Linked DNA regions of Homo sapiens. The protein of the gene in region 1 binds, or shares a complex with, the protein of each later gene. Each region holds a gene or a part of one and is shown in the gene's direction. Other genes may lie near its edges.

The links.
Region 2: SCNM1 (region 1) and BUD13 share a complex: the UniProt entries of both Homo sapiens proteins name them as parts of the minor spliceosome.
Region 3: SCNM1 (region 1) and SF3B2 share a complex: the UniProt entries of both Homo sapiens proteins name them as parts of the minor spliceosome.
Region 4: SCNM1 (region 1) and SNRNP40 share a complex: the UniProt entries of both Homo sapiens proteins name them as parts of the minor spliceosome.

The regions. Positions count from the first base shown.
Region 1 is NC_000001.11:151,161,305-151,169,143, forward strand, and holds the start of SCNM1 (sodium channel modifier 1), read left to right. Parts: upstream 1-4,839; 5' UTR 4,840-4,848; coding exon 4,849-4,899; exon of another isoform or gene 4,900-4,948; intron 4,949-5,166; coding exon 5,167-5,237; intron 5,238-5,629; coding exon 5,630-5,718; intron 5,719-5,816; coding exon 5,817-5,914; intron 5,915-6,021; coding exon 6,022-6,110; intron 6,111-6,839; coding exon 6,840-7,034; intron 7,035-7,681; coding exon 7,682-7,781; 3' UTR 7,782-7,839. Other genes in the region: LYSMD1 (lysM and putative peptidoglycan-binding domain-containing protein 1), read right to left, coding at 432-796, 3,775-3,954; TNFAIP8L2-SCNM1 protein, read left to right, coding at 5,221-5,237, 5,630-5,718, 5,817-5,914, 6,022-6,110, 6,840-7,034, 7,682-7,781. UniProt on the Homo sapiens protein: As a component of the minor spliceosome, involved in the splicing of U12-type introns in pre-mRNAs. Plays a role in the regulation of primary cilia length and Hedgehog signaling.
Region 2 is NC_000011.10:116,748,979-116,756,009, reverse strand, and holds part of BUD13 (BUD13 homolog), read left to right. Parts: intron 1-7,031. UniProt on the Homo sapiens protein: Involved in pre-mRNA splicing as component of the activated spliceosome. As a component of the minor spliceosome, involved in the splicing of U12-type introns in pre-mRNAs.
Region 3 is NC_000011.10:66,062,355-66,069,385, forward strand, and holds the end of SF3B2 (splicing factor 3B subunit 2), read left to right. Parts: intron 1-654; coding exon 655-762; intron 763-1,045; coding exon 1,046-1,188; intron 1,189-1,273; coding exon 1,274-1,375; intron 1,376-5,591; coding exon 5,592-5,691; intron 5,692-5,793; coding exon 5,794-5,979; intron 5,980-6,319; coding exon 6,320-6,391; 3' UTR 6,392-6,954; downstream 6,955-7,031. UniProt on the Homo sapiens protein: Component of the 17S U2 SnRNP complex of the spliceosome, a large ribonucleoprotein complex that removes introns from transcribed pre-mRNAs.
Region 4 is NC_000001.11:31,259,053-31,265,804, reverse strand, and holds the end of SNRNP40 (U5 small nuclear ribonucleoprotein 40 kDa protein), read left to right. Parts: intron 1-4,172; coding exon 4,173-4,276; intron 4,277-5,683; coding exon 5,684-5,733; 3' UTR 5,734-6,237; downstream 6,238-6,752. UniProt on the Homo sapiens protein: Required for pre-mRNA splicing as component of the activated spliceosome. Component of the U5 small nuclear ribonucleoprotein (snRNP) complex and the U4/U6-U5 tri-snRNP complex, building blocks of the spliceosome.

The DNA.
Region 1 (7,839 bases):
GGCTAACATGGTGAAACCCCGCCTCTACTAAAAATACAAAATATTAGCCGGGCGTGGTGGCGGGCGCCTGTAGTCCCAGCTACTCGGGAGGCTGAGGCAGGAGAATGGCGTGAACCTGGGAGGCGGAGCTTGCAGTGAGCCAAGATCGCGCCACTGCACTCCAGCCTGGGCAACAGAGCAAGACCCCGTCTCAAAAAAAAAAAAAAATAGTTAACTGTCTGACTCCAATAAGAACACAGAACCCAGTTTTCCACTGCCTCTACCCAGGCCAGCAGCCATCACCTCTGCTCATTATCTTGGGGCCACATGGGGGAAAGGTATCACCTTGCCTCTGTTGGCACTGTCCTTACTTACTTGTGTTTGTGGTTAGGTAAGACAGGAATGATGGAGGAGTCTAGGGAGGAACTTATAAGGAACCATTCAAGACTCACCCATTTTCCCCTTTTTTCAGCTTCTGAGCAGCAGCCTTCTTGGACAGGCTGATCTGTGAATCAAGCTTCTTAAGGAAATCAGAGGCAGAGAGGTCATGGATGGGCGTGGGGGTTTCCTGGCCAGGTGTGGGGAGGACTTCACCATTGGCACGTCCTGCTCCTGTCTCTTGTTTCTTCCTCTCAGTTGAGTGTGGCCAAACTTCACTGTTACTTGGGTGTACTTTTTCCTCTCCATCTTTCTCTTCCTCAGAGTCCAAACCATTGAACAGGTCTCTGGGCTCTGTCAGGATGGGGATGTAGAGGGTTTTCTTCAGGAAGATGGAGTCATTAGTATAAAGGCGGTTTGCACGTTTAATCTGTTCCATCTTAAAAAAAAAAGTCACCAAAATTAAGGACAGTAATAATGATCAATCTTACATCTTGAGCTTTTTAAAGTGACTGTACAGAGTCTTCTTTGATTCCATAACAACCAAGCTAAAGTACAAAGGGCTGACATTATTTCTATTCTATAGATGAGTGGTTTTCACACTTTTTGGTCTTAGGGCCCCCTTACATTTTAAAAAATTATTGTGCAAGCCAGGCGCAATGTCTGATGCCTATAATTCCAGCTACTCAGGAGGCTGAGGAGGGAGGATAGCTTGAGCCCGGGAATTAGAGTCCAGCCTGAGTAATATAGTGAGACGCCATTTCTAAAAATTAAAAAATTAAAAATAAATGAATAAATAAATTAATGAATAAATAAAAATGAAGGAACTGAGGCTCAGAGAGGTTAAGCTACTTTCCTAAAATTATCTATCAAGTTAATGACAGAGCTAGAATGACAATCCTGGGTCTTTTCACTGCTTCTGAGAATGCTTTTCACACTATACTATTAACAATGTCATTAATAAATATTTATTTTGACCTATTTATTCATCACTGGACATAGTGACTGGCATCACCATCTATCTGCCTGGCCTCCCAAGGTAGAAACATCAATGTCATCCTTAACTAATACTTGCCTTTCATCACCATACCAAGTGGTCAACAAAACTGCTTCAAAAATCTCTCTCACATCTGGTCTCACCTTCCTACTGCCAAAGATTTAAAATAGACCCTCAGTATTTCTCATCTGGGGTTATTGCAACAGTTTAACTGGCCTTCCTCGCTCTATTTCTACTCATCCTCCTCTTGGCATCTATCTTTCTAAAAAAATAAATCTGATTAACCCACTACCCACCTATGGCTCCGCACTGGCTAAAAGATAAAAACCAAATTAGCATTCAAGGGCTTTCTCAATCCAGCTCCCAAAGGAAATGTCTAGATTAATCTCCCTCTGCCACCTCTACATTTTGCTATCCTGAACTTTTTATTTTTCTTTGAACATTCCATGATCTTTTTCACACTTTATTCATGCTGTTACTTCTGCCTGAAATGCTCCCACCCCCCTACTATCCCATTCTCTGCTTGGAAAACTTGTATTCATCAACTATCACTCCCTTTGTGCTACCTTCTTCAGGGCTCCCAATGCATACTGTAAATATTGCTATAATAATACATAACCCTACTATAATATTATTCACCTCTTTAAATATCTGCTTTGCCTAAACCCTATAAGTCCTTTAAGGGCAAGGATTGTGACTTGCTGTCTCTGTATCCCCAGGAAGTCATTAGCATCCTACAGACCTTGACACATAGCAGGGGCTCATTAATGCTTTATTTAAAAACTATTACTTATAATTATGTAATTATTATCATAATTAGATAATGAAATATAGAAACTACAGATATAGTGTATTCGTATTTTCTTTCTTTCTTTCTTTCTTTTTTTGGAGACAAGGTCTCACTCTGTCGCCCAGCCTGGAGTGTAGTGGCGCGATCTCGGCTCACTGAAACCTCCGCTTCCCCAGCTCAAGTGATCCTCTGCCTCAGCCTCCCCAGTAGGTGGGATTACAGGCACATGCCACCATGCCCGGCTAATTTTTGTATTTGTTGTAGAGATGGGGTTTCACCACATTGCCCAGAATGGTCCTGTACTCCCGAGCTCAAGCAATCCACCCACCTCAGCCTCCCAAAGTGCTGGGATTACAGGCATGAGCCACCACGCCTGGCCCACCACAGCCCCTTTCCAACTGAAATTTAATCTTTTCTGATTTCCTATCTTTGTGTGTGTGTGTGTGTGTGTGTGTGTGTGTGTGTCTCACTCTGTTGCCCAGGCTGGAGTGCTGGAGTGCAGTGGTGCGATCTCAGCTCATCGCAACCTCCCCCTCCTGGGTTCAAGCGATTCTCCCGCCTCAGCCTCCTGAGTAGCTGGGATTACAGGTGAGCACCACCACGCCCGGCTAATTTTTGTATTTTTAGTAGAGACAGGGTTTCACCATGTTGGCCAGACTGGTCTCGTACTCGTAACCTTAGGTGATCCACTTGCCTCTGCCTCCCAAAGTGCTGGGATTACAGGGGTGAGCCACCATGCCTGACCCCTATTCGTTGTTAATACCTTTACAAACTCACCACATTCTGTCACTTGTAATCATTATTTGTGTCCCTGTTCATTTCTCATTAGGCCATAAATTACATGAGGACAGCAACCATATAGTTTAAGTTTCTATCTCCCAGAAAAGTTATCACAGTGCTTTAAATACAGCAAGCATAAAAATGTTGGCTAAATTCAACATTTGTTTGAGTGAGATGGAACAAGAAAACAGGGGCAGGGATAGGGGGAGTAACCCCATCAACTTCAATGCTGTACATTTTTACATCTATCCAATTTCCCCCATGCATGACCTGAAATACTTGGTGTAGAGTACCTGTTTTGCACAAAGGAGGCCACCTTACTGGAAAGAAGGCAGAGCATTGAGGAGGAACCAAGAGCAAGGAGAGGTGGGCACTTTAGGAACTGAGAACTAAAAATCAGCTCTCCATTAGTTGCTGTAAACGTTTAATCACTCTCAACATAAAATTTTCTGTGTGGTTAATAGAGTCAGACAGACCTGTTTGAATCCCAAATCTGACGCTCATTATTTGACCTTAGCCAAACTGGTTAACCAATCCAAGTCTCAGTTTCTTCATCTGCCAAAAGGGAACGATAAATGTATACTTGATACAGATGTGAGGGTGAAATGAGCTAACGTATGTGAAGCCCTCAGCACAGTGTCTGGCATAATAAAATAGGAGCTGTTCCTCTCCGTTGGAATAGTAGGGCAGGACTTGTGCAACACTGTGATGGGAAAACAAAGATAAAGGCAGAACAGAGTGCAACACATTAGGAACATTTCAGGGGAGGTTACCTAGAAGGGCCACTACATTCTTCTCAGGACTAAATCCCTCCTGACTGTTGTCTTCACCCCAATCCTGGAAAACTCACCGTCACCCCATATTTGAGTGCTAGTCCAGCCAGGGTGTCTCCGGGCTCCAACTGATGCTCCAGGCGTCTTTCCCTCACTGGGGAGCAGGCCGATTGCACCAGGCTTCCATATGAACGAGCCCGGCTCCCTTGAAGCAGTCCTGACCCCCCTGGCGGGGGCTGTCTAGACGGGGAAGCCATCTCTTCACCCTGCCAACAGCTAAGGTTGCAACTAGGGGAGGTACGACCGAGACTGCGACTGACAGGCCTGAAGTCTGGGAATGAATATTCAGGGGATTCCTTTCCCCCTCTCTCTTCCCCTGTGTCCCCGCCTCCCCAGCACTACGCCATCTGCCCCCTCCCGGTTTCTCCTCCCTCCAAGCTACTTATCCACAAATCTGTCCCTTGAGTATTCAGTCCCTCCCTAATTCTCCCCTAAGCACCCCTCCGACTTTGGACTCCCCCACAACTCCTCGCTACATTGACCTCTGACCTTTGAACTCTAGAAATAATCCTCAACACTCTTTCCTCAGTTTGCCCCCAAGTAGCCTGGCCTCAGGGCGCTCCAACATCCCAGCTCTCCCCGGTCCCGGGGTTTGTTTGCTAGAGTCAGGAACAAATCAGGCCCACCCCAGGTGAACTGTCGCCGCAGACGAAGAGCGTGAGGATTGCAAGAATTTGTAGTACACCTTCCACTCAGAGATCCTCAAAGGTCCGCTCCGCATAAGATAGGTCACACCCTCAAATTTCGGCTCCACATCTAGGTTGTTGTCCCTCCAAACGCCTCAGATCCGCCAAGATGCAAGGGCCTGGATCCAGTTGAGCGGCAAGGTCTTTGAGAAAAGACTTCATTTCCCAAAAGGCTCCGCGTCTGCGGAGTCGCAGGGCACCATAGGAAATGCAGTTCCCTCCGAGCACCAGAGAGTGGATTTCCGGATCGCGCAATGCATGCGTGGAAGTGCGTCCCCGGAAGTACGGAGGCCGACAGGAAGAGAAGGAAAAAAGAGAAGGCGCTGTCCCGCTCTTGCTACGGTGGCCTGGAGGAGTGGCGAAACCGGAACAGAGAATTTATCACTTCTGGGACTCACAGTCGTGATGTCTTTCAAGAGGGAAGGAGACGATTGGAGTCAACTCAATGTGCTCAAAGTAAGCGTGAGCGGAGAGGATCTGGAGCCGCTTCAGTCGCTCCCTGAAGGTTGGGAAGGAGCTTTGTTTCATTGCTCTGGCAACAACTCGGGGGTGCAGGAGAGAACCAGGCGACTTAGAGCTGTGTAGTGACTCCTTTTTCGGTCTATGATCGCTGTTCTCCCCAGGGTCCTTATTCCATTTCACTCCTCATTTCTATAATTTCACTTCCACCCCTCTCTCCTATCCCGCTGATCCCGTCCGGATTTCTTCCCCTACTCCCTGCAGAAAAGAAGAGTCGGGGACCTCCTAGCCAGTTACATTCCAGAGGATGAGGCGCTGATGCTTCGGGATGGACGGTAAGAGCAAGGAGTGGCTCAAGCCTGAGGGTTCTGCGGTTAGAGGCTCAATAGACTTTTTTTTTTTTTTCCTTTGAGACGGAGGTCTCGCGGTGCTGCCCAGGCTGCCCTCGAACTCTAGGGCTCAAGTGATCCTGCCTCCTCAGCGTCGCGATTAGCTGGGTTTACAAGCGCATGCCACCACGCCTGGCTTCAACAAACTTTTGTTATTAATTAGGACAGCAGGAGTACCTAGGATTCTTTGGCGGCCAGTGAGGACTGGAAGAAGTGGAGATTGGGTCACCAGGGAGTTGGGTTTTGCAAAGACTGCTAGGACAGGGTGGGACCTATGGCAGGGACGGGCCCAACCCTCTTCCCCTGGACCACTTATCCTCTTCTCTACCCCTGCTCAGCTTTGCTTGTGCCATCTGCCCCCATCGACCGGTACTGGACACCCTGGCCATGCTGACTGCCCACCGTGCAGGCAAGAAACATCTGTCCAGTAAGTTAGGGGGAAGACGGGATGGGGAATAAACCCTCGAAATCTCTGCACACCACTCTTGGTGCTATGCTTTTAATTCTGTTTCCCTTTCTCCTCAGGCTTGCAGCTTTTCTATGGCAAGAAGCAGCCGGGAAAGGAAAGAAAGCAGAATCCAAAACATCAGAATGAATTGAGAAGGGAAGAAACCAAAGCTGAGGTAATCAGAGAGTGGAGAGTGTGTTCTAGGCAAGACCCTGCTGCACACACCAGGCTGGAAGGGCGGAGGGCTGAAGGCTCTGACTCTGTCTCCCATCTCCTTACCAGGCTCCTCTGCTAACTCAGACACGACTTATCACCCAGAGTGCTCTGCACAGAGCTCCCCACTATAACAGTTGCTGCCGCCGGAAGTACAGGTATGGGACGGGAAAGCCAGAGGTAGGAAGGCTCAGAAGGAGACAGATGGCTCTAAAAGAGTTTTCCAGTGTGTATTCTGAGGAATACTAGTGTTCTGGAGATGTTACTTAGTGTTTCAAGAAAAGGAGAATTTTGGCTGGGCGCGGTGACTCACGCCTGTAATCCCAGCACTTTTGGAGGCTGAGGTGGGTGGATCACTTGAGGTCAGGAGTTCAAGACCAGCCTGGCCAACATGGTGAAATCCTGTCTCTACCAAAAATGTAAAAAATTAGCTGGGTGTGTGGTGTGTGCCTGTAATCCCAGCTACTCAAGAGGCTGAGGCAGGAGAATTGCTTGAATCCGGGAGACAGAGGTTGCAGTGAGCCACGGTCACACCACTTCACTCCAGCCTGGGTGACAGAGTGAGACTCCATCTCAAAAAAAAAAGAAAAGAAAGAAAAAGAAAAGGAGAATTTTGTGATTTTTAAATAAAGTTTGGGAAATGGCACTTTGTAATTCTACTTGAAGAATAACAGTTTTAAAAACTATACAAAGTCTTAAGATTAAAAAAAACTTGTAAAATTTTAAGCTAGCCTTTCCCAAATTCATGATTCTGAAATCCTTTGTATGCAGAACTTATTAATATCTTGAGAAATATAGTTTAAGAAGCACTGTTTTAAGAGGTTGGGAGTCATAGGAGAGTTGGCCCTTTCCCTTACTGCTTTTACAGACTATTCTTCTCTACCTAGACCAGAAGCCCCTGGTCCCTCTGTCTCCCTTTCCCCTATGCCACCCTCAGAGGTCAAACTCCAAAGTGGGAAGATCAGTAGGGAACCTGAACCTGCGGCTGGCCCACAGGCCGAGGAGTCAGCAACTGTCTCAGCCCCTGCACCCATGAGCCCCACAAGAAGACGAGCCCTGGACCATTATCTCACCCTTCGAAGGTGAGTATGCCTAATCAGTTTCCTCAGATTTTCTTTTCTCTCTGACACCCTTGTTTCAAAGCTATTGTTTTTCCTTTTTTTTTTTTTGAGATGGAGTTTCACTCTTGTTGCCCCAGCTGGAGTGCAATGGCACGCTCTCGGCTCACTGTAACCTCCACCTCCTGGGTTCAAGCGATTCTCCTGCCTCAGGCTCCCGAGTAGCTGGGATTACAGGCATGTGCCATCACGCCCGGCTAATTTTGTATTTTTAGTAGAGACGGGGTTTCTCCATGTTGGTCAGGCTGGCCTCGAACTCCTGACCTCAGGTGATCCACCTGCCTCAGTTTCCTAAAGTGTTGGGATTACAGGTGTGAGCCACCGCACCCGGACTCCCATTGTTGTTTTCCATCTTTGGTTTCGTTTTGTTTTAGCCACCCAACTTACATGGCTCTCAATTTTTTCTCACTGCTAACTTTTTTTTTTTTTTTTTTTTTTTTTTTGGTAGAGACAGGGTTTCACTATGTTGGTCAGGCTGGTCTCGAACTCCTGACCTCAAGTGATCCACCTGCCTCGGCCTCCCAGAGTGCTGGGATTACTGGTGTGAGCTCACCACTAACTTCTTAATAAGCCTCTTTCCTGATCGATGCTATTTTCTCTGATGTTTCCAGCTCTGGATGGATCCCAGATGGACGAGGTCGATGGGTAAAAGATGAAAATGTTGAGTTTGACTCTGATGAGGAGGAACCACCTGATCTCCCCTTGGACTGATACCCTTTTCCCATTCATTCACAAATAAATTACAATGGGTGCTGAGAACTTAACTTTC
Region 2 (7,031 bases), on another chromosome or scaffold:
TCTTGAATTCTTGGGCTCATATGATTGTCTGCCTCGATTTCCCAAAGTGCTGGGATTACACGCTTGAGCCACCGTGCCTGGCCTACGCTCTTAAAAATTACTGATGACCTCAAAAAGCTTTTGTTGATGTGGATTATATATATTGATATTTACCATATTATAAATTAAAACTCAGACATTTAAAAAGTATTTATTCATTCAAAAAAAAATAAACTAATTATGTTAACATAATTACTGTATATTTAAATGAAAAATAATTACATTTTCCAAGTGAAAAAACAGAAGGATGGCATTGATTTACATTTTTGCAAATCTCATTAATGTCTGACTTAATAATAGGTAACTTGACTCTGTATTTGTCTGTTGTGATTTGTTCAGTTGAAGTATAGAAAGAAAATTTAGCCTCACACATAGGTAGTTAGAAAGAGAAGGCATATTATATTTCTTAATGTTACACAAAAACTCAACAAGTGCTGGTTTCTTAAAGGTGAGCTATGTGGAACCTGAAACCAGATCAAAGAACTTTCCTTACTGTTATATTAATTTTTTTAATACTTTGAGTGGATCTTTTACCCATGCATGATTTTATAACATCATGCATTGGTCATTTGTAAAATATTGGTTTGCTGAGTTGTTCAGACCTTCCAAATGTTGACATATTTCCACTATACAATATCAGAAAATCACTTTTGTTAACATCACTTCCGGTCTTATCACAAAACTCTTTAAATAATGGGAAGTTAAAGAGTTCACAGTTTTTCAGAATTCTAATTTACACTTGAAAGTTTAAATGTTATCACTGGCATTTCCATTGCTTGAGCTATTTCCATTTAATAGCTTAATTTCTCTGCTGAGATTTCCCATCTGTTCATTATGAGATATTTTCCTCTTCTTGAAAATATTTGTGATATGTAATTGGTGCTTTGAAGTCCTTCCTGTCTGTTAATTGCAACATTGGATTCACCACAGGATTGGTTTCTATATTGGCAGCTTTTTCTTCAGTGTGTATTACATTTTCCTGTTTATTTACCTGTCTGGTCACTTTTTTAAATTGTTACTGGACATCATGAATGATATACTGTAGAGACTTTGAGTTCTGTTACACTGTATTGTCAGTTGTTTTCCTTCAGGTAAAGCTCACTTTGTACAATAGCTTTTTATAGATTCCATCAGATTTTGTACCTAGAGGGTCTTCCATCTTTGCATACAGTTTAATTTCTTACTTTACAATCTAGATGCTTTTTGTTTCTTTTCCTTGCCCTGTTGCATTAGCTAGCACTTCAGTGCAGATGTTGAATAGAAGTAGTGAGAGCAGACATCTTTGCTTTGTTCCTAATCTCAGGAAGAAAACATTTAGTTTTTACAACACATTTATTAAATGTGTTGTAGCTGTATAGGTTTTTTGTAGATATCCTTTATGGAGTTAAAGTTCCCTTCTATTCCTGTTTTGCTGAGAGTTTTGTTTTCAGGAATGTATGTTGGATTTTGTTCAAAATATTTTCTAATTATCCTTTTGGTTTATTCTTTGCTCCATGGGTTATTTAGGAGTGCATTAATTCCAAATATTTGGACTTTTCTAGATATCTTACTGCTATTTACTTATAATTTAATTCCATTTTGGTCAGATAATATACTGTAATATTTTGATCTTTTGAAATTTGTTGGCCAGGCACAGTGGCTCATGCCTGTAATCCCAACATTTTGGGAGCCCAAGGCAGACGGATTGCTTGAGCCTAGGAGTTTGAGACCAGCCTGGGCAACATGGCAAAACCCTGTCTCTACAAAAAAATACAAAAATTAGTCGGGCATGGTGGCACACGCCTATAGTCCCAGCTACTGTGGAGGCTGAGGTGGGAGGATCACTGAGCCCAGGGAGGTCGAGGCTGCAATGTGCTGTGATTGCACCACTGCACTCCAGCCTGGATGACAGAGTGAGACCATGTATCAAAAAACAATAATAAAAATGAAATTTGTTAAGGTGTGTTTTATGGCCCAGTGGATAGTCTATCTTCTGAATGTTTCCTTTGCACTTGAAGAGAACGTATATTCTGTAGCTATATAAGGTAGTGTTTTATAAAAGTCAGTGAGGTCAAGGTGTTTAGATCTTAGATCGCCTGTATTCTGGGTTTTTTGTGTTTGTATTTTTCTATCAGTTACTATCAATTGTGGATTTTTTGTTTTAGCTGGTTTATTTTGTTTTTCAACTCTAAAATTTCCATTTAATAGCTTACATTTCTCTGCTGAGATTTCCCATCTGTTCATTATGAGACATTTTCCTCTTCTTGAAAATATTTATGATATGTAATTAGTGCTTTGAAGTCCTGTCTGCTAATTGCAACATTGGATTCACCACAGGATTGGTTTCTATTGACAGCTTTTTCTTCAGTGTGTATTACATTTTCCTGTTTATTTACCTGTCTGGTCACTTTTTAAAATTGTTACTACGCATCATGAATGATACACTGTAGAGACTTTGAGTTCTGTTACACTGTATTCCTCTTAAGTGTGTTAGTTTTTATTCTAGCAGGTAGTTAACATAGCTGAACTCCAAACTGTCTCCTTTGCAGTGGACGGCAGCTACAATCTTTGCTCAGTTCTTTTAGTTTCTAGCTGCCATTTTTTTAATTGGCCTGATGGTATTTTCTCTGCACATGTGTCATTTAACAGTTAGCCAAGGATTTGACTAGGGTTTGTATGTAGATTTTGAGGTTCATCTCTTTTGTAGTTCCTTCTCTTCCAAGATTTCCCCCCTAATTTCCTAGCTGTTCTGCCCACTTTGCACTAATTCCTCAAGCCAGTAAGCCTGTGGCTTTCTGCCTTCATGAGCCATGCTGTTTGGGAAGTTGCCCTCCAGCAAATCTCTTTTCACATATAGACTTCATCCAGTTCATACTTACTTTTGGTCACTCTTCCACACCTTCAAATACCTATTTTTTTTGTTTTGTCTAGGTTTTATAGTTGCTAACTGAGGATAGGTTAGTCTGTTCGGGTTACTCTGCAATGTCTAGAATCTGTCTCCCCACCTTATATGGGCCTAAGGCGTTGTCTTCTGTCCCTCGGGGTGCCGTCAAAATCCAACAGCCAGGTGTGGTGGCGTGTGTCTGTAGTACCAGCTATTTGGGAGGCTGAGGCAGGAAGATCGCTTGAACCCAGGAGTTTAAGTCCAGGCTAGGCAACATAGTGAGACCCCAACTCCAGAATAAAAAAATTTAAGGCTCTTCTTTCTGATATTGGCAGATATCTATAAGTTGACTGTAGTTCCTCATCTTGGCAGATATCTTTAGGGTAGCTGTGGTTACAGGCTAGCTTACTAGTTCCGTTTGCAGTTCACTGTATGTAGGCTTTTTGGTAGAAGGAGGATTTTTCAGAACACTCATTTGCCATACATACAGCCAGAAGTAGATCTTTTTATAGCACAACCCTACAGATGTTCCCTGCTACCGAGTTTTTGTTTTTTGTTTTTTAATTTTTGGACCCAAAACTTAGAATTCTCCCTGACCTAGTTTTTTTTTACTAGTATTTAATTTGTCTTCATTTTTCTCAGTTGCTTTTTTCCACTTCTTGTTCTGATTTTATCCTAGATTTCTTCTCTTATTTCCCTTTGTCACCCTTGCTTTCTTTTTGTTATTCATCTTTCATCATCTTTTCTAGTTTTGTCTCTTTTCGGCCTGCTGCAAGGGAATATTTCCGGAACAGATATATAGTATCTGTTGGAAAAACCCATAAGATAATTACCCAGCCTCTCTTAATTGAAAGAGAAACGGGGCCGGGTGCGGTGGCTCATGCCTATAATCTCAGCACTTTGGGAGGCCGAGGCGGGCAGATCACGAGGTCAGGAGATTGAGACCATCCTGGCTAACATGGTGAAACCTCGTCTCTACTAAAAAAAATACAAAAAATTAGCTGGGCGTGGTGGCGGGCGCCTGTAGTCCCAGCTGCTCGGAAGGCTGAGGCAGGAGAATGGCGTGAACCCGGGAAGCGGAGCTTGCAGTGAGCCGAGATCGTGCCACTGCACTCCAGCCTGGGCAACAGAGCAAGACTCCGTCTCAAAAAAAAGAGAAACTGAGGCCCAATAAATAAGCAGTTTGCCTAGAGTCATGCAATTTCCCTGAGAAAGCTGGAATTAGAACTCTGCGTTCCTGATTCTCTGGTCCAAAGCTCTTTCCACTGTGAGTTCTCCTGCAATTTGTTTTCTGATTCTGCTTAGGATTTGGTGTTTGTTATTCATATGTCCTTTGTATTATCATATTAGTGTAACTCTCTTAAGACCTTATTTCCAAGGTAAAAAACAGTGGTTTCCTTGGTGCTTTGGAATACCATCCATGCTTCTAAGGTTGGAGAGGATGCCATTTATAATAAGCTTCCCTTCTTTTTTTTTTGAGACGGAATTTCGCTCTTGTTGCTCAGGCTGGAGTGCAAAATGGCACGATCTTGGCTCACTGGAACCTCCGCCTCCTAGGTTCAAGCAATTCTCTTGCCTCAGCCTCCCGAGTAGCTGGGATTACAGGCGTGAGCACCACGCCCAGCTAATTTTTGTATTTTTAGTAGAGACAGGGTTTCACCATGTTGGCCAGGCTGGTCTCGAACTTCTCATCTCAGGTGATTCACCTGCCTCGGCCTCCCAAAGTGCTGGGATTACAGGCGTGAGCCACCATGTCCGGCCAAGCTTCCCTTCTTAAAGCCCTCTGTTACTCACTCCACTCATCCCTTAAGGGAAAGTCTTAGCATACATGTTATAAGTGTAAGCAGCTAGGTAGTAGGTACTAGGGATTCCATGATTAAAGAGAGATAGCCCCTGAGCCCAGGAGCTCACTTTCAATCTAGAATAGAAGACAGACAGTTTCAACGCTGTTTGGTTAGTGTTACTATAGAAGATTTTCAAGATGTTTTGGGAGCACAAAGGAAGAGTAAGTTGAGCCTTAGGAGGATGTGAGTGATCAGGAAGTGCTTCCTAACGGATGAAATGTGGGAGCTGAGTTTTAAGGGATGTTGGTAACCAGCCAAGATAAGAAGGAAAGGAAGGATATTAAAGGAAGAGGGTCCTATATGTGCAGAGTCATAAGGCTATGAGACACCATGGTGTTACCAGGTGGTGGGGGTCCCTAAGTAATTTGCTGTTGTTGGATAGCATAAAGCGTGAGATGGATGAGAGAGGTTGGCAGACCGTGATCACAGAAGGCCCTGGAAGCCTATCTGAGGAGCTTGGTCTTCACCCTAGAGGTAAAGGGGAGACACGGAAGGATTAAAAACAGCTCTGCATTTTAGATAGACAAATCCATTATAGCAGTAATATGAAGGATTTGAAAGGTACAAGATTGGAAGTAGAACAGATACAAGGCTTTTGCAGTAGCTCAGGCTGAAAGTAATGAGTGTCTGAACTACGACTTGCAGGCAGTGGTAGTAAGGATGGTTAGTAAGAGAATAGGAAGTGGGGATGTGGTCAGGGGTGAGCTGGTGGGACCTGTTTGCTGATTTGGGGAAGAGGAAGGAGGAGTCATTGGATTTGGCAACAAGGAATGTCAGTGATGACCTGAAAGGGCTAGTTCCGTTGTGTAGTGAAACAATGGCCAGGTTCTAATGTATTAAGGAGTGAATGAAAAGTGAGGAAACAAATAGTGAATACAGGCTTTTTAAGAAGTTTAGATAAGAAGACCAAGAGAATGCATGGTAATTAAAGGGATTTGAGGTCCACTCACTACCTCCTTGAAATTCACCCCTGTATTGTTTTCCATGACACCCTACTCCTGGTTCTTTTCTCTGATCATTCTTGGCCACCTTTGCAAACTCCTCTTCCTCTGTGCACCTCTTAAGTCTTTCCCAGGGCTCCATCCATAATTTTTAGCTGTTCTCACTCTATGTGCTCCCTCTGGCTGATTCTTACCTAGTCATGTTTTCAACTATGACCTATATGTACATGATTTCCAAATCAGTATTTGCATCTTGGTCTGGTGTATTTAGCTGTTTGTTGGATTTCTCTATTGATTTAGACTTGAGAGATTTCAAATGCATTGTATTCAAAGCTGAACTCATCAGCTTCTACTGTAAGCCTGCTCCTACTCTTGTGCTCTCTAACTTGCCTCCTCCTTCTTTGTCCTTGTGTACCTAATCAATTAGTGCTGCTAATTAGTCTTACTAATTTTGCCTCCTGTGTCTTCTCTCTTCCGTCCCTCTTTATCATTGCCTTCATCATCTGTTGCCTGGACCATTGCAGTGATTTTCCTGCCCCAGATCCCCTCCAGAGTGATCTCTTTGAAATGCAGTTTAAGTTCTTGCTTTAAACCCATCGTTTCTGGATGAAATCTAAGCTTTTTACCATGGCCTACGCAGCTCATTATGCATTGGCCTCTGCGCCTTTCCAACTTTGACTCATGGCTGTTCCCTTTGTCATACTTCAGGTTCCAGCCATACCAGTTTGCCTTTGGTTTGCTGCACATACCAGGCCACTTCTTATTTCCGTGCCTTTGTTCTTGTTGCTCATTCTGTTCTGAAATGACCTCCAGACCCTTTCTGGCCCTTCCATCCCCAGTGCTGTAGTTAACACAGAGCCTTTACTGATCATTCTTGCCCAACCCTCATGTCACCTTTTTATCATACCTCCCCCAAGCTGATTAAGATACCCATTCTGTTTCCATGACACCCCATGCGTATTTCTACCAGAGTTTATGCTGTTCTTTTAATTTATTTGTTTAAATGTCTCTCTCTTCCACTAGTCTGGGAGTTCATCAGGACAGGTGCTGTGTCATACTCATTTTCATGTAGTGTCTACCATGGTACCTAGTATATAATGAAAATTCAATAAATGTTTGTGTAATGAATGGATAAAATATAAGATGTGGACATCAGCTGAGAGAGAACCAGGCTTTTAGAGTGGCAAACGTTTGAAATAGCTGTCAGAGTGGGGGAAGGGTGTGAACAAGGACTAAGAAAAGGATGAATGATATATTTTGTCCCTTTGATTCTATTGCATATGCCTTAAATATTTTCTTTTCTTTTTTGTTTCTTTCTTTCTTTTTTTTTTTTTTTTTTTTTGA
Region 3 (7,031 bases), on another chromosome or scaffold:
GCCAGATGTGGTGTCTCAACACCTGTAATCCCAGCACTTTGGGAGGCTGAGGTGGGAGGATCCCTTGGGGCCAGGGGTTTAAGACTAGCCTGGGCAACATAGTGAAACCGCACCTCTACTTTAAAAAAAAAAAAAAAGAAAAAAGAAATAATTTTTTTTTAGCTTCACTTCAGTCTCTCAGAAATAATTTTATCTCAAGAATGTCTTCAAATTTCTTATTTTAAAATAAGCATTAAAAAAATTGATGAGTCATTAAAGTAAAACAGTAGTATTGTTAAATTTTAGATAGAAATTTCTGCCCCTTAAGATAAATAGATTCTGAACAAGCTAGCTTTCCAAAGTTAGGAAAACTCAATAAGAAATTGAAGTCATGTTTTCAATGTACGTATTTTGGTTTCAGACAGTAAAGACTCTGCCATGACAGAAGTTATTAGCATACTTTCTGCCTCCTGTCTCCTTATCCTGTTGCCTCCAGATTTTAGTTGTTTATTAATTTTGGTTTCTAATGCTTCATAACATTTGATTTAATTCTGCAGTCATAATTTCCGGAGTTCCCAAGTATCAGCTCTGTACTTTTGAGTGTGCCTTTTCTCTAGGGCTTCAGAATTTCTTTTGCAGCTAAGGAGTGAACTGATTGTGCTCACTGTCTTGCAGAGCTGTTCCTTTGGGTACCATGCTGGTGGCTGGGGCAAACCTCCAGTGGATGAGACTGGGAAACCGCTCTATGGGGACGTGTTTGGAACCAATGCTGCTGAATTTCAGGTATGGGCCATGTACTAGCGATCTTGGTTTTACTTAATGTCATGAAGGTTAGATTGTTGGTTTATAGCTTCATTATCAGGGAGTTGTGTGTTCTGACACAGCAGAGCCTGGAAAAGGGCATACATTTTCCTGAGATGTTAATGTAAGCTCCTCACTAGAATTTGAGCTCTAGGTAGGTAGGGATTATTGTGTTTTGACTCTTACACCCCTTCAGCTTAAAACAGCCTGGCACATAATAGGTACTTAGAAAACATTTGTTGAATGATAAAGTGATCTCTTTCAGACCAAGACTGAGGAAGAAGAGATTGATCGGACCCCTTGGGGGGAACTGGAACCATCTGATGAAGAATCCTCAGAAGAAGAGGAAGAGGAAGAAAGTGATGAAGACAAACCAGATGAGACAGGCTTTATTACCCCTGCAGACAGGTGGGGGAAGCAGAGAATGCCTCTTGGAAGTGGGCTATCTTTGGGGTCCTTCTCTTTACTCCAGAGCTTGTTCCTCTCTTTACAGTGGCCTTATCACTCCTGGAGGCTTTTCATCAGTGCCTGCTGGAATGGAGACCCCTGAACTCATTGAGCTGAGGAAGAAGAAGATTGAGGAGGCGATGGACGGGTAAGGGTACCAGACAGGGCTGAGAGGGGAGGACCTTCACTTCCCTTTGGCTGGCTGGCTGACTGTTGTTCCTTTCTCCCTCATCCTTTTTTAAACAATTATTGAACCAACTCTCTGCCAGGCACTACTGTAGGCAGTGAGGAGTCAGCAGTTGAGGTAAACTGGTAATCAGAGAACAAGATACTTTCAGATGTAGATAAGGATGTTGAAGCAGAGGAAACTGGGTAATGGGATGGGGTGGCAGGGAGGCCTTTGGGAAGGCCTCACTGGGGAGGTGGTGCTTGAACTAAGACCCGAATGAAAAAGCGCCAGCCACAGGATCATCTGGGTCAGAAGTAACAGTAAATGCAAGCAAGTGCAAAGGCACTGAGACAGGGATGGGCTAGTATTTTGAAGCTCCATTTTTAGGTAGTTGAATGTGTAGTGTTGTTAGGTCTTCATGAATTGACCCCTTTATCATGAAATGACCCTCTCTTTATCCATTCTGCTCTTTGTTCCCTTTTTCCTGTTTTTCTACCTTCTTTTGGATTACTTGAACAATTTTTATGATTTCATTTTATCTCCAGTGTTGGTTAATTAGCTGTTAAGTTTTTGCTTTGTTATTTTAGTTGTTGCTCTGGGGTTTATAGATCATGTCTTTATCAGGATCTACCTTCTCTTGATGTTACACTGCTTCCAGATAGTATTAAGAGCCATTATAGTATACTTCATTTCTCTCCTCCCAATTTTTGCACTATATTGTCATATATTCACTTTTACATATGTTATAAATCCTATACTATATAGTTATTATTTTTGTTTAAATGGTCAGTTATCTTTTAGGGAGGTTTAAATAAGAATCATGCATGAAGCCATGTAGTTACCATTTTTGTTTCTTTCATTTCTTTGTGTATATCCAGGTTTCTATCTGATATCATTTTTCCTCTGCCTGAAGGGCTTCCTTTAACATTTCTTAAGTTAGGGGGCGTGGTGGCTTAAGCCTGTAATCTCAGTACTCTCAGTACTTTGGGAGAAGGCTGAGGTGGTAGGATTGCTAGATTCCAGGAATTTGAGACCAGCCTGGGCAACATAGTGAGACCCCATTTCTACAAAATATTAAAAAAACATTTCTTGTATTGTGGGTCTGCTGGTTTTGAATTTGTTCTGCTTGAGTAGTCTTAAAAATTCTTTATTTGGCCTTCATTTTTGAAAGATCTTTGCCAGGTTTAGGATTCTAGGTTGACAATCTTTTTTCTTTCAACACTTTTTTTTTTCTTCTTTGAGATGGAATCTTGCTATGTCGCCCAGGCTGGAGTGTAGTGGTGTGATCTTGGCTCACTATAACCTCCACCTCCTGGGTTCAAGCGATTCTCCTGTTTCAGCCTCCCGAGTAGCTGAGATTACATGTGCATACCATCACACCCAGCTAATTTTTATATTTTTAGTAGGGATGGGGTTTTGCCATGTTGGCCAGGCTGGTCTCGAGCTCCTGGCTTCAAGTGATCCGCCTGCCTTGGCCTCCCAGCTTGTTGGGATTACATGTGTGAGTGACCGCATCAGCCTTCTTTCAGTACTTTTAAGATGTTGCTCCAGTGTCTTCTTTCTTGCATTGTTTCTAGTGAGAAAACTGCTGTCATTCTTACCTTTGTTCCTGTGTACATAATGTGTCATTTTTATTTGGCTGTTTTTAAGATTTTATCACTAGTTCTAACAATTTGACTACAATGTGCCTTGGTGTAGTTTCTGAATGTTTCTTTGCTTGGGGTTTTTTAAGCATCTTAGATCTGGGTTTTTAGTTTTTATTAATTTGGGGAAAATTTTGTCATGATTTCTGCAGATATTTTCTCTGTTCCCTTCTCTTTCCTTTGGGAACTCAAATTATTCCTCTATTAATGAAATAATAAATGAAAAAATAAATGAAGAGCTCACTGATGCTCTTCATTTTTAAAGAAATTCTTCTCTCTTTGTATTTCACTTTAGAAAATTTCTATTGCTATATGTTCAAGTTTACTATTATTTTCTTCTGTAATTTCTGATCTAACAGTAATCCCATACAATATAATTCTCCTTTCTAGAAGTTTGATTTCGGGTCTTTTAAATCTATTCTTTCTCTCTTAACTTTTTGAACATGTGGAATGCAGTTATAACAATATTTTATTTTTATGTTATTTTATTTTATTTTATGACGGAGTCTTGCCCTGTTGCCTAGGCTGGAGTGCAGTGGCGTGATCTCGGCTTACTGCAACCTCTGCCACCCAGGTTCCAGCAATTCTTGTGCCGCAGCCTCCCAAGTAGCTGGGACTATAGGCGTGCGCCACCCCACCCAGCTAATTTTTTTGTATTTTTAGTAGAGACAGGGTTTTACCATGTTGACCAGGCTGTTCTTGAACTCCTAACCTCAGGTGATCTGCCTGCCTCGGCCTCCCAAAGTGCTGGGATTACAGGCATGAGCCACCACACCTGGCTATAACAACATTTTAATGTATTGTCTGCTAACTCTAACATCTGTGCCATTTCTGGGTTGACTGCCATTAGTTGATTCATTTTCCTCATTATGGATTGTATTTTCCTACTCTTTTGCACGCCTGGTAATTTTTTTTTCTTTTCCTTTCTTTTTTTGAGAGAGGTTCTCACTGTGTTGCCCAGGCTGGTCTTGAACTTCTGGGCTCAAGCAATCATCCTGCCTCAGCTTCCCAAAGTGCTGGGATTACAGGTGTGAGCCATCAGGCCTGTCCAGTGCCTGGTAATTTTTTATTGAATGCTAGGCTTTGTGAAATTTACCTTGTTGGGTCCAAGATATTTTTGTATTCCTGTACATTTTCTTCAGCTCATTCGGGAATATAGTTATATGGAGATAGTTTGATCCTTTCAGGTCTTGTTTTGGGGTTCTTGAGGCAGGACTGAAGCAGTCCTCCCCATTGTGAGGCACAAGTACCTGTGTACTCTACCCACCACCCTGTGAATCAGGAGGTTTTTCCGGCTGGCTAGTGGGAGTTACTCTATTCCCAGTTCTGAGTGAGCAGCAGTTGCTGTTATGAATCCTTTTGGGTGCTTCTTTCCCTGTCCTTGGTAGGCATGTGCTGCTTAGTACTCCCCTGCATACTTGAGGACCTTCTGTAGGTCTCGAGTTCTCTCTCTGCTCTTTTCTCCAGTACTCTATCCTGTGAACTCTAGCTGCCTTGATCTCCCTGGACTTTCAGTTTCATCCTCCCAACTCACGGAGTCCTCAGGGCTCTCCATGAGTCTCCCCTCTGTTCTGTGGCCTGCAAACTCTCAGGTGTGGTATGCTGGGGCAGTTGAAGGGCTCATCACATTTGTTTCCTGTCTCGCAGGAATCACTGTGCTTTGTTGCCCCATGTGTAGTGTCTTGAAAACCACTGTTTCATATATTTTGCCCATTTTTTTTGGTTGTTTCAGGCAGGAGGGTGTATCTGGTTCCTCTTGCTCCTTGTCAGGAAGCAGAAGTCTCAAGCTTTGCATATTCAAGGAAGAAAAATAAAGAAGGGTACTGTGGACAGAGTATAGTGAGGAGGGCTTGGGTAAGGGACCAGGCTATGAACCCTTTAGGTCATGGTAAGGAGTTTGGATTTTATTCAGATAATGATCAGAAGCCTCAGAGGGTTTTGAGCAAAGGTCTGACAGGACCCGACATCCGTTTTAAGGTATTTTCTCTGGCTCCTGTGTGGACAATAGATTGTCACCTCTTCCAGCGGGAGAGGTGGAGATGATGGGCATAGTCTGGGGTGATAGTGGTAGATTTGCTCTTGTTCCTAGTGTAATCCTTGAAATTAGTGGTGAAACTGGCTGTGGATGGCTCTTGCGTTGGAAGGCCTGGAAGTGTGAATTACATACATGAGAACTCCAGGCATGACATTCTTCGGGTGGGAACTGTTGTCGCCTGCTCTATCTTGCCAGCTTCTCTGTACCAAAGTTCTTTTGGAAACTTTGAGCCTCTCTGACCTTTTGACCCTTATGTGCATGTGGGAGTCCTGGTCTGTGATCCCTTGACTTGATTCAGGGGGCCCCTTAGCTCCATCTGTGTTCCCTGGAGTCAGCACTGTGCCACCCCCCCGCCCAATTCTTTTCTGTCATGGGCAGAACTGCAGAGGCTGCATCCTTGGGGAGCTCAGAAGCTCTCCAAGGCGCTGAGTGGAGGTGCCACCTGTATCTTTTGTTTCCGCTTCTGGAGACCCTTTTGTCCCTTGCTTTTTGGGCCTGATCCCATTGTCCTTCGCAGAAGTGAGACACCTCAGCTCTTCACTGTGTTGCCAGAGAAGAGAACAGCCACTGTTGGAGGGGCCATGATGGGATCAACCCACATTTATGACATGTCCACGGTGAGTACTTGGAGGATACTGCTTTTGGAGGCTGAGAAAGGCAGCAGAAGCTAGGGCTTCTCTGACTCTTTGGAGATGACCAGGCCCTGATCTCCTTTCCAGGTTATGAGCCGGAAGGGCCCGGCTCCTGAGCTGCAAGGTGTGGAAGTGGCGCTGGCGCCTGAAGAGTTGGAGCTGGATCCTATGGCCATGACCCAGAAGTATGAGGAGCATGTGCGGGAGCAGCAGGCTCAAGTAGAGAAGGAGGACTTCAGTGACATGGTGGCTGAGCACGCTGCCAAACAGAAGGTAGGCGCTTCCAGGGGCGCTGGGCTGGGTGAGAGCCAGGGACCCTGGCCTGCCGTTTTCAGTGGCATGGTGCCCTCTAGTGGTGAGAGTGAGGGTGGCCTCTGCTTGCTGCTCTGTGCTTCCTTAGATTTGGAAGTCTTAGAAATCCTCCAGTGGGCTGCCCTCTTTAAGGACGATGAGGGGGAGGAACTCAGCCAAGTCTGAGAGGGAGCTCGAAGAGAATTCAGATTCAGCGCCTTTCCCACAGACTTCTATGTCTATGTCAGGCTGCCCACCCTTGTTTTGGGGGTCCGGGGGTGGTTCAACCTGTCTTAACCTGTGTCTCTTTCTCCCTATACAGCAAAAAAAACGGAAAGCTCAGCCCCAGGACAGCCGTGGGGGCAGCAAGAAATATAAGGAGTTCAAGTTTTAGGTCCCCTCACACTAGCCCTTTTTTTGGCCCTACGTCTGGATGCCTGGGCTTCACACAAGAACCACCTCTCCCGCAGTTCCCAAGGACTTGTCATTTCATGTTCTTATTTTAGACCTGTTTTGTAAATAAAGCTGTTTCCCAAGGAAAGAGATGAATATTTAACACTCCTGAGCCTCCCTCATCTCCTTTTAGCCCCTTCTTGCAAAAGGACTAAAATAGTCTCTTTCTACAATCACTGGGCTGCCCCAGTAACCACGAACATAAACTGGGATTAGACGGCGCATTTGACTGGTGGTGACGCCAACCCCAGGCTGAAATCTGTGTTTCACCACTGCCCTGCTTTGTAGGAAGGCTTGGGGGAAGTACCTCTAGGTCTGGTTTGACCTTACTACTTTGTCCTTGGGGAGTAAAAATAGCCAGATTAGCGCCCTAGCGCGGCAGAGGAAGTAACAGTGGGCTTGGGAAGTAGGCCAGGGCAGGCCTTCCCAACTGACCTTGTGACCAGAAGTTCAAGTCCTTACCTGTGCGACAACATAGCTCAAAAGCTAAATTGTCTTGAGTCCATATGAACCCTTGGGTTCAAGCAACACTAGTCGCTGGGGTTTGGGATTTGTATGTGGGATGGGGGGACTTACTTTCT
Region 4 (6,752 bases), about 120 Mb from region 1:
GCAGTGGTGCAATCTCTGCTCACTACAAGCTCCACCTCCTGGGTTTACACCATTCTCCTGCCTCAGACTCCCGAGTAGCTGGGACTACAGGTGCCCGCTACCACGCCTGGCTAGTTTTTTGTATTTTTAGTAGAGATGGAGTTTCACCGTGTTAGCCAGAATGATCTCAATCTCCTGACCTCATGATCCGCCTGCCTCGGCCTCCCAAAGTGCTGGGATTACAGTCATGAACCACTGCACCCAGCTGTAATTAAATTTTTAAATTATATTTACATACTTTTTTTTTCTGATGAGCAGTTTGTTTCTGGCATTGGCCCTTTCTGAATTGCAATGTCCTTTTTTTCTCTTTTCCTCTCCACTGTTCCTTTAAACTTTACATGTGGTCAATGGTGCACACCTTTAATCCCAACACTCTGAGAGGCTGAGGTGGAAGGATGGCTTGAACCCAAGAGTTCAAGACCAGCCTGGGCAAGATGGCAGGACCCTGTCTCTATAAAAAAAATATTTAAAAAATTAGCCAGGCATAGTAGTGTGCACCTGTAGTCCCAGCTACTTGGTAGGCTGAGGCAGAAGGACCCCATGAGCCCAGGAGTTTGAGGATATAGTGAGCTGCAATCATGCCACTGCTCTCCAGCCTGGGCAACAGAGCAAGACCCCATCTCTTTAAAAAAAAACAAAATCACATGTGAAAGCGTGGTATGAGGAAAGCCTATCCCTCTCTACCTGCTGGGGGTTGGCAAGATTTGACAGGCCACCTCACCAATTGGCCCCAAGTCAAGAAGCAGCTGTGTTACATAAGGCTTCTGGTTCCTGCCAAATGTTGCCATGCCAAAGTAAGGAGAGGGCAAGGAACCCCTCTAAATTTAGCATCTAATTGGCAGCCATCAAGAGTGAGACCTTGAAGTGTAAACCCTTGGAGATCTGGGATTCTGTCTTTTATGTGCCTGGGAAATGTATCCTCAGAAAACTCCTTTTCAGCTTGGCCTGGATTTGGCAAACTTCTCCTTTCTACTAACTAATAACTTACAGATCACCTCCTCATATTCAAACTTGAAACTCTGAATAGTCCTATAGGCTACGGGAAGGCTGACCAGTCTCTCGGCCAAGAGTGATTTATTCAGCCCATTGACTTCATGAGATTCTGTTTTGATGATGAGTGTACTTATAATAACAATAGCTATAATTAATTCTGTGTGCCAGGCACTTTGCATATATTACCTCATTATTTTTCTCAACAAAGTTATGAGATCAATATTTTCTCCATCATTGTAACTAAGAAGCTTAGAGAAGTTAAATGATCTGCAATTATTTAACTTCTCTGAGCTAAGCTTACTTAGCTAGTAAATAGCTGCACTGAGACTTGAACCCCAGTCTTTCTGACTCCAGAGCTCATACTCTTTCACTATGCCATACTGCCCTTTATTGAATTAATGAGGACCAGCTTTTTGTGCATGACAAGAAAGAAGACAGTAGGAAGGGCATGAGTATCAGAGCCATGGAGTCTAGACAGATGGAGTTCCTGCTTCTCTTCCATCTTGTTCAGAACTTACTTTCTATGGAGCCTAGCTGATGACAGCTAAATAGTATAATTAAGAAGCTCTTGTTTATTTGCATTTTTGACCAAAAGTGTAAGTTGGATTAGAACTAGGCATTTTATAATCCAGTACTGGTGAATGTACCATTTTTATGATCAAGTACTGGTGAGTTGTTGATTGCACAAAACAAAATATGTAAATAATTTTAAATACCTGCTTCAAAACTACCAGCCCTTTATATTTACCAACAGATGAATTTTACATCATCAGATTAAGATAATAGCTCTATACTTTACCCTTTAATGACTTAAGCAAGATTGAGGGTCAAAGGAACTTTTTTTTTTTTTTTTTTTTTTAGCCAGTACATTTATGGAGGGTAAGTGAAAGTAAAATACGAGAGTATATTAAGAGCTCCAGAGTCTTGGGTTCAGCTCTGTAGTTTCTGTGGCTACTGAAGAGGTGGTCAGGAACATAGGAACCCCCTGCTGGGCTCCTGGTCACTTCTGTCTGCTCCATGGCAGGAAACCTTCAGCACAGGACATCAAGGCAAGCTTGAATAAGAAAAACAATTTCTTCTTCCTAAGCCATATCATATCAGTTATACAGAAGTACTACTTTGGGACACAGTCTTCAGGAGAGCCTAGATGAGCTCATAAAATCTCAGCAGTTCACTCAACTTGCCCTTCAAGTTTTACTTCAGTTTGATAAGGCTATAAAGTCATCATTGGCTCAGAGGATTAGGAACAGAGTTGATTTCAGGGGCTCTCTAAATACATACAGATTGTGCCATATGCCACGCATGGTGGCTCATGCCCGTCATCCCAGCACTTTGGGAGGTGAAGGCAGGAGGATTGCTTGACGCGAGGAGTTCAAGACCAGCCTTAACAACATAGGAAGACACTGTCTCTACAAAAAAAAAAAAAAAAAATTAATTGAGAAAAACAAAAAGATTCTGTGATAATATGTAGACTTTTGTGAAAATTATGGCCTGTGATGATAAAAATACTGGCTCTAATACTATAGAATGAATAAGGAAAAAATCACATTTTTATGACATCTTCTGTTATTATTCATCACTTTTGAAGAGAAATGTAGAAGTTTTTTTTTATTTATTCTAGCATTGCAGAAAGTACATTGTGTTATTTCAGTATTTCAGTAGTATTTCAGTAGTATTCAGAGTATTTCAGTAGAAAGAAGCTTAAAACTCTATAGCCTCTTACATTACCTTTATTATACAGCATGAAAAAAAACATAATTTTTTTTTTCTTGAGACAGGATCTCACTCTGTCACCCAGGCTGGGGTGCAGTGGTGCCATCTCAGCTCACTGCAGCCTCTACGTGCTGGACTCAATCAGTCCTCCCACCTTGGCCTCCCAAGTAGCTGGGACCACAGGCATGCACCACTACACCTGGCTAATTTTTTTGTAGAGATGGGGTTTTACCATGTTGTCCAAGCTGGTCTCAAGCTCCTGAGCTCAAGCCTTGGCCCCCCAAAGTGCTAGGATTACAGATGTGAGCCACCATGCCCAGCCTCATAATTTTTTTTAATGACAAATAAAAATTTTGTCTTCCTAAGAACATTCTCTAATAAGCTCTTTTTTTTTGAAGAGTTCTAATTTTAGTTACGCCGTTGATGAACTGTATTGCCTTGGAAACGTCACTGTGCCCCAGTTTTCTTATCTCTAAAATAAGGAGTTTAGAGAAGCTGATTTCTTTTTTCTCCTCTTTTTTTTTTTTTTTTTTTTTTTGGAGATGGAGTCTCACTCTGTCACCCAGGCTAGAGGGCAGTGCCACGGTCTCAGCTCACTGCAACCTCCACCTCCCAGGTTCAGGCAATTCTCCTGCCTCAGCCTCCCGAGTAGTTGGGATTACAGGCACACGCTACCACTCCTGGCTAATTTTTTGTATTTTTAGTAGAGACTGGGTTTCACCTTGTTGGCCAGGCTGGTCTCAAACTCCAGACCTAAGACGATCCACGCACCTCGGCCTCCCAAAGTGTTGGGAGTACAGGCATGAGCCACCACTCCCAGCCTAGACAAGCTGATTTCTCTTGGCCCCTTCCCATTCTAGAATTCAGTATTCCTTCTGCCTGTTAATTCAATGGAAAAGTTGGCTCAAGTGAGTATTAGGTTAGCAAACACTATAAATATTTTATATACCAGACACTTCCTGTCCCTTCTCAGGTCTCTGTTTGAATACAGTACTAAAAAGTTCATCTGGATCAGCAGCCTAGGCTCCCACCCTGCCATGAGTTGGGTTACCTTTTAGATTTCCTGGATGAGTATGAAGTTAACTGTAGCCTAATTATACTAGACACTCTGAAAAAGGTTTTTGTGTGATGTCTGCAGGAAAAACTTTCTTTTCTTCCCTGTGGTGTTTCCCATTTCAGAAGCTTGTATTCAAACATGCCAGTCATGCTTATATTTTTAGTTATTCTTATTTCTCCACCCCATTGCTCAAGAGGTGAGTCCATGTCTTATTCAAACTCTGTGTTCCTAGTTTCTAAAAGCCAGAACATGGTTCAGTAAATGTAAGGTAAGTAAATAATTGTTGCTTCCATTTCCTTTAAAAAGCCATGCCTCTGTCCTACCCCCAGCTCTAAGAGGACTTACCCTTGCTTTTCATGATACCTTACAGGTTTGTTTATGTGTGGGATACCACAAGCAGGAGAATATTGTATAAGCTGCCCGGCCATGCTGGCTCCATCAATGAAGTGGCTTTCCACCCTGATGAGCCCATCAGTAAGTCTGTCCCAACGAGGGGGAAAGGGAAACTGGAAATCTCCCCGTAGGGATCCTGGGAATAGAGAGTCAAAAGCGGGTATCTGTTTTATACGAATTTCCATGCAAACAGCCTTTGGGTGTTTTTGTTGTTGTTGTTGTTGGTTTTTTTGTTGTTGGGTTTTGTTTTGTTTTGTTTTTGAGACAGTGTCTCGCTGTTTTGCCCAGGTTGGAGCAATGGTGCAATCTTGGCTCACTGCAACCTCTGCCTCCTGGGTTCAAGCAGTTCTCCTGCCTCAGCCTCCCAAGCAGCTGGGATTACAGGCACCCACCACCATGCCCAGCTAATTTTTTTTTTTTTTTGTATTTTTAGTAGAGACGGGGTTTCACCGCATTGGTCAGGGTGGTCACGAACTCCTGACGTCCAGTAATCCACCCGCCTCAGCCTCCCAAAGTGCTGGGATTACAGGTGTGAGCCACTGTGCCCAGCTGCAAACAGTCTTTATGTGGGTATCAATGTCAGTCTCACCATTGCTCATAAGTGGTGAGAGTAAGAGCAATGCTCCATTTTCTTCTTGATCTCAAAGGGAAGTTGGTAAGTCTAATTTTTTTTTAAATTTACTTCCATCAAGTCTGTTTCAATGATGTATTTGATTAAAAGAAAGATACTTTTTTTTTTTTTTTTTGAGACAGAGTCTCACTCTTGTCGCCCAGGCTGGAGTGCAGTGGCACGATCTCGGCTCACTGCAACCTCTGCCTTCCCAGGTTCAAGCGATTCTCCTGCCTCAGCCTCCCAAGTAGCTGGGACTACAGGCACCCACCACCACACCTGCCTAATTTTTGTGTTTTTAGTAGAGACGAGGTTTCACCATGTTGGCCAGGCTGGTCTCAAACTCCTGACCTCTGGTAATCCACCCGCCTCAGCTTCCCAAAGTGCTGGGATTACAGATGTGAGCCACTGCGCCCGGCCAAGAATGATACTTTTTAATATTTAGATATAAATTTCAGCTTAAAATTTTTTGGCTGGCTAAACCAAATAATTTCAGCCTTGAATTAAAGGAGAAACTGTAACTTTCTCCAGGGCTAAGTATAACAAGCAGAAGCACATTTACAAAATGACTGGCACAGCCATAGATTCCTCTCTTCTAGAATGACTGGGAAAGTCTTTTTCTTGGGGTTTGACTGACAAGGGATGTCAGTATTTAGTGTCTGATAATGTATTTCCCATAGTACAGTCATCCTCATGATATTAGAGGACTTGGATTGAAAAGCCAGGCTACAATTTCCTGTGGATGGTGTTTAGGAGGGGAATTTAAGCTAAGTCCAATTGCTCTTTTATACCAGAATTGGCTCTTGACACAAGAGCCCTTGAGCACCAAGTCTCCTTGAGCCTTCATTATTTCTAGTTATCTGTTCTTTTTACCTCAGTTATCTCAGCATCGAGTGACAAGAGACTGTATATGGGAGAGATTCAGTGAAGATATGGACTGGAAGACTCCAAGGCCGCTTGTCTTTGAGACCTCAGACTGCATAAGTGATGCCAAATGTTGGATGTCCAGGCTAGCACCCTCCCTTCAGATGACCATTGCTAGCAAGAAACAGGAGGCGGTGGCCATATTCCAAAAACCACTTCTGTCCCATTTCACCAGGATGACTAAGGCAAGCTCCCTGTGGCCTCTAAAAACCACCTGCCAGATTTCAGGGACTGTTTTTTTTTTTCTTTTTCTTTTTTCCTGTTTTCTAATGCAGGCCCAATGTGACAAATTTGTTGGTTGGGATTTTTTTTTTTTTTTTGTAACTGGCTTGTATGATATTTTCTTTCTGTATTTCTCTATATCATTTTGTATTAAAAGCCAAATAGATGCCTTTTTACAAGAGCCATGTGGATTGGATTTATTGCTGTCTTTTTTTTGAGGCTTGATTGCTATAAATCAGAATAGAGCATGATGTGGCCACAGAATACAATTCATTTAAACTTCCAAGAAGCTGCTCACTTGTTTTTTTTTCCCCCCTTTTCTGTGTTTTTAGGTTTACTTACTTCCATGAAAATGACAAAGAATAATTATCAGTAACAATACTTTTTTCCTACTAGAAGGATAGCAGCCAGGAGGTGATAAATAAGTTCTAAAAGAACCTGGTTTTGCCAGACGCGGTGGCTCATGCCTGTAATCCCAGCACTTTGGGAGGCCAAGGCAGGCGGATCACCTGAGGTCGGGAGTTCAAGACCAGCCTGGCCAACATGATGAAACCCCGTCTCTACTAAAAACACAAAAATTAGCTGGGTGTGGTGATGCACATCTGTAATCCCAGCTACTCGGGAGGCTGAGGCAAGAGACTCACTTGAACCTGGGAGGCGGAGGTTGCAGTGAGCTGAGATTGCGCCACTGTACTCCAGCCTGGGCGACAGAGCAAGACTCTGTCTCAAAAAAAAAAAAAAAAAAGAACCTGGTTTTGTGTACTTGCATCTGATCTTTAATGAACAGAGCCCGTATTTACT